Linked DNA regions of Homo sapiens: region 2 is reported to be linked to region 1. The links are microRNA targets in miRTarBase. Many come from high-throughput screens and were not tested one by one. Region 1 holds a microRNA gene; the other region holds the end of a gene's coding sequence.
The links. Region 1 holds the annotated microRNA hsa-miR-583 (CAAAGAGGAAGGUCCCAUUAC, at 5,482-5,502, shown strand). A microRNA usually pairs through its seed, bases 2 to 8, with sites in the 3' UTR of a target mRNA and lowers its output. Matches are read on the target gene's strand: a 7mer-m8 pairs with bases 2 to 8, a 7mer-A1 pairs with bases 2 to 7 and ends in A, and an 8mer does both.

Region 2: the mRNA of CMTM4 is a reported target of hsa-miR-583. Seed matches in the 3' UTR shown: 7mer-m8 at 1,537-1,543, 7mer-m8 at 2,716-2,722, 7mer-A1 at 6,015-6,021, 7mer-A1 at 7,418-7,424 and 7mer-m8 at 7,479-7,485.

What each region holds. Positions count from the first base shown.
Region 1 is chr5:96,073,672-96,081,669 of GRCh38, forward strand. MIR583 (microRNA 583) reads left to right here and starts at 5,467; the gene lies at 5,467-5,541. The region is part of intron 1 of LOC101929710 (a long non-coding RNA gene); the gene reads left to right. It also overlaps a transcript of CAST not described here.
Region 2 is chr16:66,615,492-66,623,489 of GRCh38, reverse strand. It overlaps CMTM4 (CKLF like MARVEL transmembrane domain containing 4), which reads left to right. Exons shown (of 4, transcript NM_181521.3): 3 at 1-86; 4 at 1,268-7,998. The coding sequence ends at 1,432. Among named protein-coding and RNA genes, the nearest start is that of CMTM3, 15 kb to the right of the region's middle. RefSeq lists an enhancer at 3,107-3,608.

The sequences.
Region 1 (7,998 bases):
CAGTTCACAATAGGGTTTCTCCTCCTGTGAGAATCTAATGCTGCCATTGATCTGACAGAAGGTGGAGCTCAGGCGGTAATGCTCATTCACCTGCTGCCCACCTTCTGCTGTGCGACCCTGTTCCTAACAGCTCATGGACCACTACCGGTTCTTTGCCTAGGGGTTGAGGACCCCTGTTCTAAAGTTCTTTCTTGATAGAGAACACTGGGTATTTATTGATTTTTAGCCACCTTGTATTCATATCTCTCTTCTTTAGAGAATTATTCTCCCATCATCCTCCCACCCCTGCCCCCATTCTATGGTGTGCTGTGAAACTATTCATCAAGGTTCCCGGCTGCATGACCCAAGCTAGGCTAATCACATTCTCTGTGAGTTGTTTGAATTTTATATCGAGAGACTCACAGACTGAAAAATTTGCTGGAACTAATTCTTTCTAGTGAACACCATGGAAGAGCTAACTGTTGGCACCTGCTACCTCGCTTCCCTGAACTACCCTATTGCTTCTCTAGACTTCTCTTTGTTTCTGTAAGTGATTCAATATCCTTTAACAAGCCCATTTCTTTTGTAGGTTAACTGATGTTTTGGCCTGGATAATGTTCCTTCAAAATACGTATGTTGAAGCTCTAACACCCCCAGTGTGGTGGTATTTGGAGTTAGGGACCTTGGGAGGTAATTAGGTTTAGATGAGGTCACGAGGGTTGGACCTTCATAATGGAATTAGTGCCCTTACAAGAAGAGACACCTGAGAACTTGTTGCTGTCTCTTTGCCATGTGAAGACACAGTGAGAAGGTGGCCACTACAAGCTGAAGAGAGCCCTCACCAGAAACCAATTATGCTTGTACCCTTATCTCAGACTTCCAGCTGATGAGAAAATAAATTGCTGTTGTTTAAGGCACCACAGTCTTTGGTATTTTGTGATGGCAGCCTGGGCTGGCTAGTACAGGTGGGAAGTTTCCACTGCTTCCCACAAAAGAATCTGACTATGCAAAATGACGAATGAGAAGGCATATTTTACCCTGTAGTACCTTGGCTCTGAGATGGGGAAGAAAGAAGGACAAAGGTTAAACCAGCAAATTCAGTGACTTGCTATCATCTCTAGACAGGAAAAGTTTGGTGAATAAGGAAGAGGTTGAAATTATTTCATAGTGTGTGATTTTGGAATTATTTATGGGTTATACTTATTCTTACTCTTCTGTATCTTGTTTGCATATTCCTCATCCCTAACTTAATCATGATTTAGCTCTTACATGGTGAATAAACCAGTGGAAACTTAGAAAATTAATTGGCCCAGGATACCTTTTTCTTTAGGCTGCAGAGCTGGCAAAATGAAAGCATATCCCCAGGAAGTGGTCTGCCAGGAAGAAAAGCTGCACTGAAATGGGCATCTAAATTTTTCCTTCCTACTTGTTTGCTTTGGTCTTAAAGAATGTTTGAAATTCCTACTGCCGGAATTTGTTCATTGGCTCACAGTCACCTCTTCTAATATATGTTCGTCTTTTATTTTTAGAGCTTTGTTTTGATCTATATGTCTCTTAGTTCTCAGAGAAATGCATCCCATGAAATGATTCAGTTCTGAGAAATCAAGCCAGGTAAAGATGAAATGTAAGGCTTTACCAACTCTATAATACTTTTCATCTGCTTTTAAAGATATACACCCTCCCACTAGGATTTCTTGGCATCATCTACATGTTTTCCTATTAGTTACGGACATTTTGAGCTTTCATGGTATCCTAGTTATCACCCCTCTTGTCTTACAGATGAGGAAATAGATGTCTAGAGTGGTAACTGGCTTATCAATAATTATGTAATTAATTTGTGACTAAGTAGGGACTCGAAACCAATTTTTCAGATTTCCAGTTCAGCTTTCGTTCTACTTCCACAAACTGCCAATTAATTGACCAAGCCAAGAGAATAAAAGCAATTCTCATTCATCCCAAACTAAAGAAAAATATGGAAAAGAAGAAATAGAGTTTTCAAAGTATTGAGTTTCATTGAGCAAAAGGGGAAGATTTGGAGCCATGTTGAGGAAAGAGGCAGAGAGGTAATGCTTTCTGGAAGGATCATTTTTAAGCTTACTGCCAGATTGCTTTATTCCCTGGGCATGTGCCTGCATGTTTATTTCATGGGTTAAATGATCCCTTTAAGGTGAATGAAACACTGTCTCATTTCCTTGCAAACCAAAATTTAAATAAAATAATTTTTTCCCTTGGGAGTTTGTCACATTAAATCCACTAGGTTTAAGCATGTGTGTTGAAAACAGGCTAAGGGGAACTGGAACTTCATCTTATTTCTCTAATTGGTGTCTGTGCCTTCTTGCCTTTGGAGAAGTGAACGTTGTCTGGGCATCCTACTCATGTTTCAGCTCTAGAGTGAATGTCCAGGGTCTGCTTGATAACTCTTTTTCTTCCTGGACAACCACGCCCTAGGTCAAGATGGTCTGTTTTCACTATGGGCCAGCTGTTCCAGGATTATTTTTTCAGGGTTGGAAACCACAATTTTGGACTCTGAGCCTGAGAATAAAAGTGTAAAGGAAAAGGTCAAATAACATTTTGTGGGATTATCTGCATTCTATTTGAAAACCAAGGAAGTCTATCTTCAGTGTTTTTTAGTACCCCTACTCTAAACATATTGCTCTAAACAACATATGATGAAAAGTCATAAATATTTAGTAAAAACACACATTCCTCTTCTTTCCTCTAGGCAACAAAAGCAAATATCGAAAAGGAGTAGAACAGTTGGAATTTATAATCTTCCTTCTGAACTAACAGGTACTTCTTCATAACCCTAAGGGGCTCGGGTTCTGGGCCTGGACTCCCAAATCCTTCTGCGTGTAAATAAAAAACAATGCTTAAAGCAAATATTTTAGTGAGGAAAACAACTTTGGAGCCATCCTTACCATAATGGGCTGCTGGAGTTGAGTAATTAGTAGCTATAGCATTTAGGGCAGGGTTTTAGGAAGTCAGTCTCTGTAGTTGAAAGCATTTGCCACGTCATAAGAATTTGTGTCATAAGAATATTCAATGAATTTTTGGAAACAAACAAAAGGAAAGTAATAACCATCAAGCTCAATGATTGAAATTGGTTGTATTTTGTGAAGTTGTTCATTTTTTTCTCCTTGTATTTAGATTATATTTACAAAGCTTTGAGTCCTAAATTCCCATTATTTTTAATAAATATCAATAATAATGTAAGCAAACATTTAAAAGTTAATTAGTAATTGTATCTTCCCAATATGATATATATTTTTGCATAATAGTTTCTAATTCTTTTCATGCATATAGATTTTATAATATTTATAATAAAAATATTTTATATTATGCTTTTTTATGTAACATTCTGTCTTGACATTAAAATTATCCATGTTTTTAGTCTTATTAACAATTGCTTCTTTAAATGACTGATTAATATTTCATAGTATCTATCCTAATTTGCTGACTGCTACTGGCAACTTAGCCTTCAACTTTATTAAAGTATATTTTAGAAATGTAAATGTATATCATAAATAACATTATATTGACATCTTAACATATATACCTTTTTATTTTATTATTCAGTTGAATTACTTTTTCATGAATAAATTCTCAGAAATGTTATAATGGTTAAGATTACGAACATCTTTAGGGTTCTTGCTATTTATTGACAAATACTTTTTAAAGTGTATATAGCATGACTGTATAACTTTCTCTGCAATTTTATGTATATTTGGTATTATCATTTATTTGCTTTAATTTGCATTTCTTTGATTATTAGGCAGATACACATTTTTCTTTGTGGATTTTATTGTTTTTGCTAGTTGTATTTATTTGCATGTGAATTCTGTGGTATCGTCTGGATATTTGATCCACCCAAACTTCATGTTGAAATTGTGGGGCTGCTTAGGTCATGGGGCCAGATCCCTCATGGATAGATTAATGCCCTTCCTGATGAGGGGAGGGAGTTTGTAAGTTCTCCCTCTATTAGTTCCTGAAATAACTGGTTGTTAAAGGGTCTGACACCTTCCTTCTCCCTTTCCTGCTTCCTTTCTTGCCATGTGATACTGCACACACTGGCTCCCCTTCTCCTTCTACCATGAGTGGAAGCAGCTTGATGCCCTCACCACAAGCAGATGCTGGTGCCATGCTTCCTGTACAGCCTGCAGAACCATAAGCCAAATAAACCCCTTTTCTTTATAAATTATCCAGCCTCAACATAAGATGAACTAACTTGTTTAATCTGTTTTACTATTTCTGTAAGGAACAGTACACTTTGACTACTGGATAGCTGGATTACCTATGCTATAGTAATCTTCAGACCAGGAACATTAGAACATTTTTTTCTTAGGTGAGATTTATCTGAAACCATCTCACTACATTTTACATTTAGCAGATGTAACTATTAAATTGGTATAATAAAGAAATTATCCTGCTTCTTGCTGTGCCCTCACATGGCAGAGGGAGAGAGAGCACAAGCTCTCTTGTCTCTTATGATAAAGGTACTAATTCCATCGTGACAGCCCGACCCTCATGTCCTTATCTAAACCTAAATACCTTCCAGAGGCCCCATCTCTAGACACCATGACATTGGGGTTTCAACATATGAATTTTGGGAGAGACACAAACATTTAGTTCTTAACACTCCCCTTCTCCCTCAGGCCACTTCAGTCTACCCAAGTACACAGCCTCCTAATTAAGGGGTACTTGGTGATTCTTAAAGACAGGGGTAAATTTTCATGAACATCTGATCAAGCTTTTTTTTTTTTTAGACGGAGTTTTGCTTTTGTTGCCCAGCCTGGAGTGCAATGGTGCAATCTCAGCTCACTGCAACCTCCGCCTCCCAGGTTCAAGCAATTCTCCTGACTCAGCCTCCCAAGTAGCTGGGATTACAGGAATGTGCCACCACGCCCGGCTAATTTTTTCATATTTTAGTAGAGATGGGGTTTCACCATCTTGATCAAGCTTTTAAAAATTGAATTAATAGGTATAGAACACAATGAAACAAACCAAGAAAGAACAAGTGGAAAGAAAGTAGTTAGAGCACTTAATGTCAAGTTAAATCAATCACTAAGCATAATTTGTCTTGTGGGTATTGATGATGGCATGTGGTATGTGTTGAGATTTAAGAATGTATTTCACAGTGACATGGATGGAGCTGGAAACCATTATCCTTAACAAACTAACACAGGAACAGAAAACCAAGTATTGCATGTTCTCACTTATAAGTGGGAGCTGAATGATGAGAACATAGGGACACATAGAGGGAAACAACACATACTGGGGCCTTTTGGAGGGTGCTGGGTGGGAGGCAGGAGAGGATCAGGAAGTATAATTAATGGGTTCTAGACTTAATACCTGGGTGATGAAATAATCTGTACAACAAAACCCCATGATACAAGTTTACCTATGTAACAAACCTGTATATGTACCCATGCACTTAAAGTTAAAAAAAAACCTATTTAAATGATAGGAAGGCTGTTCTTTACATCTTACAACTCACACATTAACCAAAGAGGAAGGTCCCATTACTGCAGGGATCTTAGCAGTACTGGGACCTACCTCTTTGGTACTTTCCCCTGGGCCCCCTTCATTTCACTCCCTACCCACACTCTTTGTCCTGAGCTCCCACTTACCAAATGGCATCAGGCTTGTTACTCATTTGGCTATTTTCTCTTGTGAGTCAGGAATGATTCAATATCCTGGCAAGGGTTAGGAAGGCTAGTCTTTTTAAAGAGCTCTCTTATAGGTAAATACAAACATGATAACTTGGGTGTTTGAAACCACTTTTAAGTATGTTTTTTACTAATTCTTAAGGTTGAAGAGATATCTTGGGATAAAAAATTGCATTAGTTGACAATTTAAAAAATGTAGTTTGTAAAGTCTGAATAACTCTTATTTGTATATGGTAAAAAGTGTAAATTACAAAAAAGATATACAATGAAAAATGAATTTCCTTCTCATTTCACATCCCTAGTTCTCTCTGTCTCCCCTTCAGAGGCAACCACTACTAATTACTTGCTAGCACCCTTCCACAAACATTCTCTACGTAATCAAACTTCAATATTGTTTATATAGCAACCTTTAAGAATCAATTAGGAACATACTATATACATCTTGGTTATTATTATTTTTAACTTAACCATGTTTTGTTTCTTAGAAATTTTTCTATATCAGCACAAATAGCTTTATCCTATTCTTTTAAATGGCCCTATGATGAGGATATGCCTTAATTTATTAAAGTAGTCCTCTAATAATAGGTATTTAGGTTATTTCTAGTCTTTTAAAAAGCAAACCCCACTGCCTGAAAAGCCTTATATATACATATTCGTGCATTTGTGTGGTTTTGTAAGTATATTTGTAGTATATCTATAGGTTGAATAACAGCATGAAGAGAAATATGATCTTGTAGTGGTTAAAAGCATAATTATTATGGGTTTGACTGCCTGCTACTGGCCTACGACTTATTAGCCATATAACCTAGGACAAGTTACTCAACTTTCTGTACCTCAGTTTTCTTATCTGCAAAATGGGTATAAATAATAGTATATACCTTGAAGAGGTGTTATGGGCATTAAAGGACCTAACAGAAGTACATCATGCTGATATCCACATATAATACATTCTACATAAATTATCTCACTAGGATACTTTCCTGGAAAACAGGACTTTCTCTTTTAAAAATATTAATGCTATCATTGGATGATAACTGTTTTTCTTCTTGAAACTTGACAAAATCTCACTACTAAGCTTATTACAAATACTGATATAATTCATGCTCATTTTGGCTTGAAGGAGATAGTTTGGCAGGGCAAATTGAGAGTAAAGTTCCTGACCATAGGTATAAGTGAAAGTCTGAATTTAGTCTTAATTTGTTTTTGAACATTAGATTAAAGTTCATCATTTTGGACCTCAGTGTCCTTATCTGTTACATGCAGGGATTAGATTAGATGATCCCTAAAGTATCTTCCAGTTCCAACAATTATGTCTGTGCTTATTCCATTCTCAAAATGAGACCTGATTTATGTGGCTTAGACAATTGTGGGAGATAAGTTTAAATCCTGACTCATCTAACTGTGACTTTGCACATGTTGTTCCCTGTGTGTGGAATGACCTTCCCCCTTGTCTGAGTGTTGAGCTGAGCTCTGATTCACCCTAGGAGACTCAACTCTGGCTGGGCCCTCTCTTTAAAACCTTCCCCAAGTGCCCCAGCTGAGCTAGGCACAATTTCCCTTTGAGCTCTCTTAGCCCCTGTGTTATGTGGTAGGATAAGAGTGTGAAGCCTTAACTGATAACTTTTATATGTTATCAGCTTTGGTATTGTATTTTCAATGCACAAAGAAGAGATGGCACTTTCTTTTCTTGGATTGTAAGTTTCAAAAGTCTGGGTCCTATAAGGAATCAAAAGGCCTATGTGCCTAGATAAAATGATGACTGGGATAAATCACCCCCAAGCTTCCATGCTCCAGAGGACAGAAAGTTCTTCAGACAGAAGTAAGCAAAGGTTGAGTTGACACTGTGGATTCCTGACAAAGGAGTGAGACTCTCTGCCTTGTCCTTTCCCCTAGCTCAGCACAGGGAGAAGGAGAGTGACAGAGTTTGCCAAGAGGTATGTGAAATCTGAACACAGAGGGAATCCAGGTTCTCTTTCCTGTGTAGGGCCCAGGGAGGTAAGAGCCCAGAGTAGAAATGGCTGCACAGGGCATCCAGGTGGAGAGACCTGAGGGAACTTGTGAAGTCCCATAGAGCTCAGCATGGCATTGGATCAGAGAACGATATTCTTGTGGTCAGGAGGAGCACGGAAGTGGGAAAGGGAAGAGGATAATCTTGCTGAGTTTCCTGAGGCCCAGTGTGGTGTGAGAGAACAGAATGATCCCATGTACCTTAAAGGGGCAAGGGAGTTTGTTAATAGAGAGCTGGGCCATTCTGTTCAGGGAACATGAACAGAATCAGCAGTAACTTGCCTAGACTGACTACTGAAGACCAGATGGAGGACAACTCAGCAAATAAACAGATGCTCACCCACTC
Region 2 (7,998 bases), not on the chromosome of region 1:
CTGGACTCAGCGCTTTCCTTTTCTTTATTGCTTCAATCGTACTGGCTGCTTTAAACCATAGAGCCGGAGCAGAAATTGCTGCCGTGGTAAGCAAACTCAAATGGTTAAAGCAAGCTGATCTGGGGACCTCCTGTGACCTGCTCGCCTGTCCCTGGCATGTGTCCTGCTCCCCCTCCTGTGGCTTTTCTTTGCTAAAGATGATGTTACTGGGCCAGTGGGGGTCCCAGTCCCTTCAGTGCTGTGGTTCTCAAAGTATGGGCCCCAGAACAGCAGCCTTGGCATCTGTTAGACATCCTTAGGCTCCGCTCCAGAGCTACTGAGTCAGAAATGTATTTGAAGTAACCCTCTGGATGATACAGATGTGCTCTCAAGTTCAAGAACCCCTGCTTTGGTTCGTTTCCAACACAGTCCTTGATGTCTAAGAGCCTTATCTGCCTGGGGAAGGGAGGGTTCTTGAATGCAGTCATGACACCATTTAGCAGTCACATGACATTTCAAGGTGGAAATGCCACGGCAGGTGGGGACCAGATAATGTAGGACTTCCCCTCTCCATGCCCTGCATTTCTGTATTGTTCTCAGTTTATGAGGAACAGTTATCCTTTTTGTAATGGGGGGATTAAAAGGTTTATAAATGATTAAACGAACTGCTCTCCCAGGTGCCACTCAGGCGATTTGTAAGTCTTAATAATTAAAACTCTGTGCTTCTTACTCTGGAGCTGCTTACTTGGAGCTGCCCCATGAGAGGCAGGTGTGGGATGGGGGCTGTGATGTGGAACATTGGCCCTGTGGCTTGATTTGGGACCCACATGCGAAACCCTGATTTTCTGTCTATGTTACATTTTGTCTGCACTGTATTTTCTCATCTGGGACCAGAGGCCCTGAAGTTGCAGTAAAAGAGGTACTTTTGTGATTTATTTTTTTATACGTCCAAAATACTTCAAAAGAAACCTTAGGCTGTCTTTAGGTCAGGCAAGATTTTCTGTGTGTCACATGACTAGAGACTCAGCTGTGGTGTGACAGCCACACATCCAGCAGGGCTGGGCACAGGCTTCCCTTTGACTCTGAGCCACCCCGTCATATGTATTTGAAACAAGACTTTAGATCAAATGGGGCTGCTGAGAGGGGGAAGAGATCAAGGAATGAAGGCACAGGGTTGTAATGATCAGCTGGCAGAGCAGGAAGGGGCTGCATGTGGCTTGGGTCACCACAGAAGCCTTGAGGGGCCAGGCCACGTGCCCGAGGACTAACTGTGCTGGTGTGTTTTTAGATATTTGGCTTCTTGGCGACTGCGGCATATGCAGTGAACACATTCCTGGCAGTGCAGAAATGGAGAGTCAGCGTCCGCCAGCAGAGCACCAATGACTACATCCGAGCCCGCACGGAGTCCAGGGATGTGGACAGTCGCCCTGAGATCCAGCGCCTGGACACGTGAGGACCTGCCTGGATCCTCCTCCCTCCCGTCCTCGTGCCTGTCTCTCAGTCAAGTTTTCTTTCCCTTGTCCTGTCAGATTTCCATGTGATTCAGTTGAATTTTGTCCTCTTTGGTAAAAGTTCATTTTGGGAAAGGGTTTCCCGAGTGGCCCAGTGGGCGGGTCCGCGGTGGAGTTGGGAGGCCCACGTTCCTCAGCGTTTGGGGCTGTGGAGCAGCCGGCGTCACTGCCCAGGTCCACTTGAGGTCTTACCTGCCCTGAAGCACAGGCTTCCTTTGACTCTGAGCCACCTTGTCGTGTGTATTTGTAACAAGACTTTGGATTAAATGGGGCTGCTAAGAGGGGGGAAATATGAAGGAATGAAGGGACAGCATTGGAACGGTCAGTCGGCAGTGGTTCTCAGGCAGCCTTAGGCACCACCTGCTCCAAGTCAGTGTTGAGTCTGCGTGCTGGGATCCAGCCCACTCCTCATCTTCCATGCCAGGGCCCCCAGGCAGCCAGCACCAGCCCAAAGGCCACAGGGCTGGGGAAAGCTGATGTCCTGTTAGGATGGCTCCCAGGGACCTCTGACTCAAGGAAGGGTGACCTTTTGTTTCCTACTCTGCTGAGAAATCACTTGATTCTTCCTCAAATGAATCACCTTCCTGAACCCCAGATTCTTCTCCAGGAATATGGGGGCCATCTTGTTATGGGGACTATCTTGTTTTCCAGTTTCCTGCCTACCCTAAATACTTTGAGGCTGAATTGCAGATTTTCAGTCATTTTACCTTCTCAGGTAAAAGCCATGAAAGAAACAAGCCTACTCCACCAGCCAAAGCACTTGCCCATTTGCTGGCTTCATGAACCGCAGGTGGGAGGTGTTTGTGTTAAAAAACAGCATGCACACGCGTGCGCGCACACATGCACACACACACCCCTCTATTTTAGGGATGTGTGCTAATTTTCTAAATGCCTGCAAAGAGTTCTAAAATGATTCTGAGCAGATTCGTCTAGGATTTGAAAATACTTGAATTTGCACCAGAACACACCCTTCCACCCATGTTTCAGAAGGCACTAATTGTCGCTTTGGGCGCCTCAGTGTCATAACTGTAGACATCATTCTTGGGAGTTGTTGGGGGGAAAAATCCTAGCTACTTAAGGTTTCTGATTGATTCTTGATAAAGTGAAGATTATTGTGTGTGGTGAATGAGTTCAGTGAGTCCCCATGATGCAGTAGTTTTTTTAAAAAATTAGAGAGTAATTATATCTTTTATGGAAAAAAGTTGTTTTAGTTTGTCAGGTTTTCCCTCTTTGAACTGTTTTTAATGTTTACAAACCTCACTTTAGCTCTAACATTTTGTGTTTAGCCCTCACCAAAAAGCACTTACTGTGGCAGGAAGATTTTGCAGTAACATGGAGAAATCCCCAAGATCAAGTGCTGACAAATGTTGACAGCTTTAGCAGCGTACTGTGTAATAAATAACTCCGAGGGGGCGGCGGGGGGTCTGTGCAAGAAAGCGTCACCTTATGGACATGTGGCGTCTCATTCCCCAGAAAAGGACAGCATCTGAGCTCACAGTGTTGATCAGGCAACACTGCTGGGCTGGGGGTCGGAGTTGGGGTTAGCTTCCTGCACCAACACCTTCAGTACGATCTGAGTTGGGAGCAGTGTCCCAGGCTATGTGGCTGAGCACCACGTCTGCCTCAGGGGCTGACCCTGCTAGCCTGTTAACAACTCGTCTCCCCTCTGCTCCCACAGAGAGGGCAGCCAGGCCAGCTCACAGCTGGGTGTGCTGCCTGTCAGGTCTGTTGAGTGTGTTTGCAAAGTCAAAATTGGGCTTATCTCTCTTTGAGAGTTCCTTTTAAAATAGGGCCACAAAGGCTCAGCCTTGCATTAAATGGGGCCCACTTGGAAGGACCATCCTGAGCTTTATCAGAAATCTCCTGCTGGGAATCATGTTACTTGGCCCCCAAAAAAGGCCATCTTTGAAGTGAGATTGAAAACAAGAACACCATTCAGGTGGGCTTGTTGCCCAAGTTTTCCCAGCTCACTTCAGTAAAACCACTTGATCATCTGGTGAAAGAGGGGGGCAGGTGGTTGGCCTCCTGAGGATATGTTGTCAGCTGCAAGAAATAGTTCTGAAGTCACTGAAACTAAATGCAGATGAATGACCAAAAAGGATGACACGCCAGAGAGTGACTTAGGAGTTAATTTGCATCTTCGTGATAGACTCTTCAGAATTATTTATGTCCCTGTAACTATTTAATATCCTTTGTGCCGTGAGGCTCCTCGGTGGTTTTGTAAATGTTCTCCTTGTATTTAATTAACTCCCACTAGAACCGGAAGTGGTGCTATGGACGCTTTCTAGTTGATGTAATGTGTGGTTGCACATGTCATCATGTATAGACCACGTGGTGACGAAAGTTCTGGAGGGAATAGGGTTATCCAAGGTGAATATGAAGACGCCTATATTTTTCTTATATTGCCTCTATATGCAAACAGAAGACAATCGATATCTGGGGGCCTTAAAATGACCTCTTGGCAAATTGAAGGAAGCGTTTTTGCGTTTAATAGTTTCAATAGGGACCAATATCAGTTTGGTTTGGGGCATTTGAAGGCTGAGCGACCTTAGTTTTTCTCAGTGTTCTGGTGGGACGATATTGGTTTTCACATTTAAAGCAAAACTTGAAGAAACTGCAGTTGCTGTGTGCATTTGGGTTTTTTCCTGGACACTGTACAGCTGAAACCCTCAAGCATTTGGTGGAACCTCTGGTGGTTTTAGATGGATGCAAACACTGATGTCCTCAGAGAAAGTTTATTTTGGCACTGATTGGGTGGATTTGGTATTTTTTCCCTCTGATTCTCTTTGATATCCTTCTTTCACACTGCTGAAGGCATGGGAGGGAAATATGTTTTCCCTGCCTTAAAGAGGGATTACAGTCATGAAAGGCTGGAGATACTTGTTGGCCCCACATAAAGCTGGGAAGAACAGATGCAGTTTCAGATTAAAATCTCGTCAGAGAAGTTTGATTTGAAGTAAACAGCCATCCGAGGGAGGTGACTTTTGTCTACAGAAAAAGCAAGAATGTGGCAGCCTGCACAGCCCCAATACACATCTTCCTTGGCAATGTGAGCTGAAGCCAGCATGGGCAAGTCCGGCCCAGCTCTGAGCGCTTGGCCCTGGGAAGCCAGCGGCACCCCCAGCCCTTCGGGCCCTGTTACTGTCCCCTGGCAGGAAGGCTCACGCCTGTGGGCAGCCAGGGAATGTGTCTGACCTCCACCCTATGTCGGGTGCTTCTGGGACAGCTTCGTGACTCAGTTGAAAACATTCTGACTCTCTTCAAGTTTGCAGTTACATCTGTGGTTCTTGGAAGCTGTCCTAGTGAGTCAGCCTTGGGTTAAGCCTGAGGAGACCAAGCTCCAACACCTTTGTGCACTCATGTACGTGAATTCTTGCTTGCAGTGAATGAGACCTGAACAACCCTAGTGGGTGCCATGTCCTGCGTGTGGCCCAGGCGTACCTTTTCTTGTAGATTCACATGAGAAACCCGTCACCTATCCATGTGCTCTGAGAGGTGGACTGAGGTCTAATCCCTTTCTGTGCCAGATTTTCTGTGGGTTGGTCTTAGCACCTAGGAGATGAATAGAGCATGGAGACACCTGAACAATTTAGTGATTCTGCAAGGCAGTGATGATTTAAGGGTTCCTATTGTCTCATCTGTGTTCAAAACAAAACAGTCATGAAGTCTTTGTGCCACTGCCTGACTGTCATCTTCTCCAGATCTTGTTTACAGAGTAATAATGACGTTAAACAGGTATCAGAAAGGGGAAAAAGTTTCTAGGCCAAGAGCTGCTGGTGGATTCTCTTGAGCAGAATAACAAGTTGCTTCCTGCTCCAGGGACTGCCATTAGCTTGTGAAGTCTCTAGGTGCCTTGTTATTTCCTAGTGAAGTTGCAGAATCCAGGGTTTTTTCCAGGTTTGTCTTATTTTATCAGCACCCACGTCCAGGCCCAACAGCTTGGTAGGCTGGTGAGGTCCACACACGGCCAGGTCTGGGAGATAAGGGAGGAAGCAGTGGCCTGGAACACCCCACCTGTCTGCTATCAGCACTAGACAGCTCAGGCTGTCTTGGAAACGTGTACTTTGTTAACTGCCTTCCTGTCCTCTTGTCTTTGAAAGCTGTCTCGCGTTCCACAGTCAGCTTGAGGGCAAGAGTGGGATGCTGGGGACAGGTCTTTCCCGTCCTGTGGGTGAGCTCCTGGCATCTGGCTCAGGAACATGTGGGTCCAGCAGGTGACTCTGAAGCTGGCTTGGCTGCCATCTCAGACAGGACGCAGGCCTGACACCCTCAGCTTTTAGCTTTGTAAACTTCCCTGGCGCTTTGTAGAATCTTGTGTTTCTTCTCTTCTCAGCAGATATCATTCAAGTCACAAGAACTGTCTGGTTGAGAAAGTAATTTAAAATATTTGACCTTTTATGTTTCTTTTATTTAGAAACTGTGAGAGAAAATACCGTCAATATCTGTTAGGTCTAGAAAAATTTTCTTCCGAAAGTGAATGTTCTGTTTAATTCTTCTTCATGCAAGTGAGTGGCATTTTGTACACTCTTTAGCTTGAAGCGGAGTGGGTCCTATTGTATTTTCCCTTCTTTTGTCTGGAATATATTCTTTTTCCATTTGGATACAGTTTTTCAACCTTTGGGATTTTTTTTTCCTTTCTAGTTTTTCCTACTCCACAAACGTAACAGTAAGGAAAAAATCACCCACAAACCTGCTGAGTTTGAATCACTGGCAACTTGCCTAGAAAAGTTCAGATGATGGGTCCTTGAACTGTGTATCTATTTCATAGGGTAAGTTTGTTGTCTATGTTTGTTTTTTTATGCTGAGGCTTTAATTCAGGTGACTTGCTATCTAGACACCTGGGGTGGCGTGTTTTCTTTGGGATGCATAATACACAAAGGCCAGGGAGCCTTTGGCTTGGACCCCCAGGGAGCTATTGAAACTTTTAAAGTTTGAGTTTAGGAGTAAGAACATATCTCAGACCACCTTAGTCAGCTTTGCTGATGGGATTTAGGGCCAGGTCAGAGTTTCTTTTCATAACTGCCTGAAAAGAGAGATGGTGTGAAACAAGATTCTGATAATGGTTTGTGTGAGATTTGATCATAGTCTAAAACTATCACGTCTGAGTTGCCTTAGGATGACAGTGCTGACACCCAGTAGGAAGTATCCCATTTTTATCAGGAAAGTCAGTCACGCGTAGGGATGGTGAGGAGACGCGTAGGGATGGTGAGGAGGGGAGAGGAGGGAGACCTGCTGGTGCCCTTGCACCAGGGTGAGGCCTGACTCACGCTGCTTCCCCCCACAGGCCCTGCTTTGCTTGCCTGCTTTTTCCAGAATCGATTTTGCAAGCTTCAAGATTCTGTTCCCCTCTTCGCAGAAGTGAGGAAGGCAAATACTCAGGGTTTGAAGGGAGACCTGGCCGGCCTGAGGGCTGGCAGATGTGAGGGCAGGACACCTGGGATGGACTCGTAGGCTGACCCAGGCCCAAAGGGGGCTGCCTGTTCCCAACTCTTTCACTCTGTAACCCATTTTAAAATGAGTTTTTGAATCTTGCCTCAAATTGACCTACTTGGATAAAATCAGTGCTTTTCCTAACTTGATTTTGTTTGACGTGGTTCCCTCTAAGAGAATGGTAGGAATTGAAACTATTTGTATATGTTGAAATTTGTAGGGGTTCAGGAACCCATGGCAGAAACACTAAACTATTTATTTACAAGTATGACTATTTTTTTTTCAAAGTAGGCAATTCTTTGTATATTTTAAGGCAAATAATCACTTCACCTCTGGTGCCTTCCATGCGTCGCATAAGCACTCTTGTCAATCATGGAATTGGAAAAAAAGATGTACATTTAGTTAAACAAGATAACACTATTTTTGTAGCATGATTTTAGATTGTGTCCTTTTAATATTGTTTTCAACAATGGTAGTTTTGAGGTTTTGGCCATTTTCTCTTTACACTTCGTATGTATTTTAAAGAAGAAAAAAAACAAAAAAAATTCCCTGGCTATTCCTCTTTCCTCTCTGCTGCTGCTTCTCCTGCATCTTGTTCCTGCTTATTTAAATAGTCTGAGAGTAAGAGTATATTTCTGTGAAATAATTATAAGTCAGTATAATTGCATTTGGCATTTTTTAACCACTTGCTCAGTTTGGAGCCACTGCTCACCTCAAACAGTACAAAGAAAGTGGTTCCATATTTTACAAACAGAAGAGTAGCATCAGAGCCCTGACCTCCTGTCTTTGGGTGTAAAATGGTGAGAGGCCGGTGTCCGGCTCCTTCCCCTGTGGTTTGGGCTGGTGAACTGAGCCCAAGTGTATTCTCTGGCCTGGGCCCCTTCCAGAATCAGTGCGAGCGTCCTGCAGAGGCATGGCCTTCCTGCCACTGCAGAGTGGGAAGCTTCCTGGGGGACCTCAGCCAGCTCCGGGGCTCTCATCTTCCACTCGGATCTCAGATTGGTTCGTTGTGGATGCTCTGGCTAGGCTCGGCGGCCTTTTCCAGGCTTCAGGCCTGAACAAAACAGGCTGTTTGCTG